2 separate regions of the Homo sapiens genome follow, and region 2 is linked to region 1. A link means that fine-mapping ties the variant in region 1 to the expression of a gene that starts in the linked region. Tissue or cell type: whole blood. Region 1 holds a variant in brackets; the other region holds the start of a gene. All regions are shown on one strand. Distances are between the middles of the regions.

Region 1 (2,500 bases):
GTAAGGGCTACAGGCACCGCACCTGGCTACTTTTTAATTTTTTTGTAGAGGCAGGATTTCGTTATGCTGCCCAGGCTGGGCTCAAACTCCTGGCTTCAAGCAGTCCTCCTCCCTTGGGCTCCGGAAGTGCTGGGATTACAAGCGTGAGCCACTGGGCCAGGCTTCCTTGATTCTTCATTCTCTGTCTCCAGCCTCATCCTGCTAAGCCCTGGCCTCCCTATGCTTCAACCCAACTGAGCCACTTGCAGATCCCAGGATTCTGGGGGCTATTTAATGCCTACACTGCTCCCTCGCCTGGACTGCCTTTCCTAGAAGGGGCTTGTGGGTCAGTACACACGCACCTCTCAGATCCTGTTCAACGGCGTCTCTAGAAAGCCTTTCTTCTGCTGCCTTCGCCATACTCTACATGGAGTCTGCAGGCCTCCACCCTCACATCTAACCTAGTTCATTATGCTCATTTGCTTACATGTCTATTTTGCTTCACCTGACTATTAAGGCAAACGAAGATGGGGGCCATGTTTATCAGGCCAAAACATTTAACTCTGGGTCTGAGACATAGGAGATGCTCAAGTGAATGCACATTGAGTAAATCATAAACTTTTTTTTTTTTTTGAGACAGAGTCTCGCTCTGTCACCCAGGCTGGAGTACAGTGGCACCATCTTGGCTCACTGCAACCTCTGCCTCCTGGGTTCAAGCAATTCTGGTGCCTCAGCCTCCTGAGTAGCTGGGACTACAGGCACGCACCAGCATACCCAGCTAATTTTTGTATTTTTAGTAGAGATAGGGTTTCACCATGTTGGCCAGGCTGGTCTCGAACTCCTGGCCTCAAGTGATCCTCTTGCCTCGGCCCCACAAAGCGCTGGGATGACAGGCGTGAGCCACCGCGCCCAGCCACCTACCACTTTTTGAATGTCAGCTTGGTATCAGCACTTTACCAGGAAGTTAATATGTGACTTCTCATTTTATCTTCCCAACCACTATTATGAGATTTGTCTCATTATCTCCTTGATTGAAGGGAGGAGGATCAGCTCAGTGGATGAGGGAAGTTGCTTGTGGTTCAACTGCAGTTTCAACCAGGCTGTGGATTTTGATGTCTCAACAGGAAAGGCTGCTATTGCTTAAGACAGCAAACGAGGTAAAAGGAAACATCTATGGTTTTGCAGGGGTGGGGTAGAAAGGAAGCTGAGGGAGAGGAAACTGGAGTCCGGAGATCGGATCTGGAGGTGGCTTGTGATCAGGAAGGAGAGTAAACAAGGGGCTATTTGGAAGGAATTCCTCAGTGCTGGAAACCAGAGCCAGACAAGCAACATGAAACTGAACTCATGACCAATGGCAGCTGTGCACACAGCGCTTTGTAACCTAAGTTGCTTCACATTAGAACATGCTCCGGACTGGGCATGGCAGCTCATGCCTATAATCCCAGCACTCTGAGAGGCCCAGGCAGGTGGACTGCTTGAGCCCAGGAGTTTGAGACCAGCCTGGGCAACATGGCAAAATCTCATCTCTACAAAAAATAGAAAAATGAGCTAGGCCGGGTGG[C/T]GAGCGCCTGTAATCCCAGCTATTCAGGAGGCTGAGGTGGGAGAATCACCTAAGCCCAGGAGATGGGGGCTGCAGTGAGCTGTGGTTGCACCACTGCACTCCAGCCTGGGTAACAGAGTGGGACCCTGTATCAAAAAAAAAAAAAAAAACCTTTGGCTGTGCCCCTGAACTGGCTCTCTATACTAGTCTACAGGTGGCGATGGGGGGAGTATGAGGACCTGACACACGTCCTGTGGGGAAAAAACCAAGCAATGTGCTGGGTAACTGCCAAGGGCTTCTCTGGGCCATCAGGGCGGTGGTGGCTGCTGCCCTTGACCAGGGAAGGGTCTCCTCACAAGCCCACCTCTGTTAAGCGGGATTTTAGCAGGATGAGAAGGCACCATGGATGAAAACAGAAAACCACTTCCTAGATCCCAGGCTGAATGATTACAGATGTGAGGGGGGGCATCCAATTCCCAGCGCACTCAACCTGGGCTTAGCAATGAAACTCAAGGGCTCTGAGAGAATGTGAGGCTGATGCTGGGAGATGCTGGGACTGGCTAAGTCAACCGACTCCTCCTTCACTTTAACGTAAGCTCAATCATATGACTGAGCTGGGAGACGCCGGGACTGGCTAAGTCAACGGACTCCTCCTTCGCTTTAATGTAAGCTCAATCATATGACTGAGCAGGGAGACGCCGGGACTGGCTAAGTCAACAGACTCCTCCTTCACTTTAATGTAAGCTCAATCATATGACTGAGCTGGGAGACGCTGGGACTGGCTAAGTCAACGGACTCCTCCTTCACTTTAACGTAAGCTCAATGAGACCCCGGAGCAGCCACCCTGGAGATTTTGAGTCACAGTAAATTTTTACAGAGACACTGCTTCTACCAGCAGTTATGGGGAGCGTCACGATGTGATTTATCAGCAACATTTCTAACACACTAATGAGCACCCAGAGAGTGAGGGAATTTCACCTC
Region 2 (2,500 bases), 180 kb after region 1:
TCAGGAGCAATACCCTGCAGTATTAGAAATCACTATTTCTGACCGGGTGCAGTGGCTCACACCTGTAATCCCAGCACTTTGGGAGGCCGAGGCGGGCGGATAGCCTGAGGTCAGGAGTTCAAGACCAGCCTGGCCAACATGGTGAAACCCGGTCTCTACTAAAAATACAAAAATTAGCTAGGCATGGTAGCGGTTGCCTGTAGTCCCAGCTACTCAGGAGGCTGAGGCAGGAGAATCACTTGAACCTGGAAGCGGAGGTTGCAGTGAGCCGAGATGGCACCCCTACACTCCAACCTGGGCGAAAGAGCGAGACTCCGTCTCAGAAAACAAAAAAAAAGAAAAAAAGAAAAGAAAAAAATCACTATTTCTAATATCATTAGCCTTAAAAACTCAATAAACTTGCAAAGGCAAGAGTTCCTGCAGGCAGGGCCGCGCGTGGTGGCTCACGCCTGTAATCCCAGCACTTTGGGAGGCCAAGGCGGGCGGGTTACTTGAGCTCAGGAGTTCGAGACCATCCTGGCCAAAACGGTGAAACCCCCGTCTTTACCCCAAAAAAAAAAAAAAATTAGCCGGGTGTGGTGGCGTGCGCCTGTAATCACAGCTACTCAGGAGGCTGAGACAGGAGAATCGCTTGAACTCGGGAGGCGGAGGTCGCAGTGAGCCGAGATCGTGCCGTTGCACTCCAGCCCGGGCGACAGAGCGAGAATCCGTCTCAAAAAAAAAAAAAAAAAAAAGTTCCTGAAGGGAAAAGAGGCCCCTTGGGAGTATTCTCCAACCTCACCCAAACTATTCAACGGTAGGAATTCTCAACCTTTTAAGAATGGTAACGATGTCATTTTTCAACACTTTCTCTCTTCTCTGCCGTCCGCTTCAGAAATTAAAGTCATTCCCTTCCCCCAGTTCCAAGCCACTCACGAGGTGCCAGCTTGCAAAACCGGGGCGTTGGCACGAGTCTGGTAAATGCATGAAGCCCCCACAGTCCCCAGAATCTGAGGATGGCACCCAAGGCCTGCATTCTCCTAGCGTCGTCCTCTCTAAGCGCACAATTCCTTTCCCCAAAACCACCAGAACCCCCAGCCCTCGCCAAAGACAATCAAAGCCTAGAAAGGGTTCTCTTTCCTTTCCTTCTGATTCAGAAACCGCTTCTCACCCGCACCACCTCCCCACCTCCACTTTCCCTTCTGCCGCGAGCCCCCGGCCCTCCGTCCACCCGCCGCGGCCTCCCCAGCGCCCGGAGCTGCCGTCTCCCCTCCCGCACTCCCGTTTCCCCTCCTGAGGGGCGGAACGCTTACCTGCTCGATGGCCAGCTGCACCTCGGGCGTGAGCTGCAGCACGGCTTCCAGCTCCTCCACGAACTCCAGTTCCTCCTCCTCCATCATTCCGCCACCCGGCCCCCTGCCGACCCCCGCCGCGAGCCCAACTCAGGCCTCCAGCCGCCACCCAGGCCCCAGCACAGCAACTCCCTCGCGGCAGCGACCTGGTGAGCCCGGCTCCGTCAGCCGCTCTGTCAGCCGCTCCGGCACTTCCGGCAGGCCAGGGCACTTCCGGGACCGGGGAACTGTGGGATCACGGCGGACTGAGACTGGCGGCGTTCCTGTCACGTCAGGTGTCTCCCGGGCAACGCAGTATCCCGGCGGCCCCGCGTGGCCTCAGCGCGTCCTTAGGATGGGCGGGGCCTCTTCCCTCCCCAAGGCGCGCCCCGCACTGAGGACCCCGAGGTTGGGGTAGGGTCTGGCCTCCAGCAGGACGCCCGGATGAAAGTCAGCCCTGCGGCGTCGCCAACCGCAGCCCACAGCCTCCGCGGGCAGCGCAGCGGCGACCTCTCAGCTCCCGGGGCCCCCTCGGTCAGTGGCAGCGGGTGTCCCCGGCCACGGGGGCGACGTGATCCCAGCTGGCGAGTGGCGATGTCGCCAAGGACATTCGTAGGACGGGACAGTGCCCACTCGATAGAAATTCCCCGTGCGCCGGGCTCTGCGCAGAAGCTTTTCGAGGTGACTGCAGCCTCCTTATGGGGAGAAACGTCTTTTTTTTTTTTTTTTTTTTTTTTGAGACGGAGTCTTACTTGTTGCCCAGGCTGGAGTGCAACGGCGCGATCTCGGCTCACTGCAACCCCGCCTGCTGGGTTCAAGCGATTCTCCTGTCTCAGCCTCCCGAGTAGCTGGGATTACAGGCGCCCGCCACCACGCCCAGCTAATTTTTGTATTTTTAGTGGAGACGAGGTTTCACCATGTTGGCCAGGCTGGTCTCGAACTCTTGACCTCGTGATCCGCCCGCCTCGGCCTCCCAAAGTGCTGGGATGACAGGCGTGAGCTACTGCGCCCGGCCAGAAACGTTTTTTTAAAGCCAGATGACGCAGCGCCCTGGAGCTGGGGAGACGTTTACTGAGGTTGAATATCCGGGATCTAAGTCCTGAATAGTCCACCATTGATAAGTTGTGTGACTTGGAACAAATTACTACCCCGCGTCGATGTGGAGAGGATTAAACATTAACAGCGCGATG

Evidence for each region. PIP is the estimated chance that this variant, and not a neighbour inherited with it, causes the effect.
Region 2: it holds the start of VPS53, and the variant in region 1 is fine-mapped to the expression of VPS53 in whole blood (TOPMed, PIP 0.97).

What each region holds. Positions count from the first base shown.
Region 1 is chr17:533,246-535,745 of GRCh38, forward strand. The region is part of intron 18 of VPS53 (VPS53 subunit of GARP complex); the gene reads right to left. The region is part of intron 1 of VPS53-AS1 (VPS53 antisense RNA 1); the gene reads left to right. Among named protein-coding and RNA genes, the nearest start is that of VPS53-AS1, 12 kb to the left of the region's middle. The variant C/T (reference allele first, on the strand shown) is at 1,541.
Region 2 is chr17:713,331-715,830 of GRCh38, forward strand. It overlaps VPS53 (VPS53 subunit of GARP complex), which reads right to left and starts at 1,509. Exons shown (of 22, transcript NM_001128159.3): 1 at 1,293-1,509. The coding sequence starts at 1,379. RefSeq lists an enhancer at 1,981-2,050.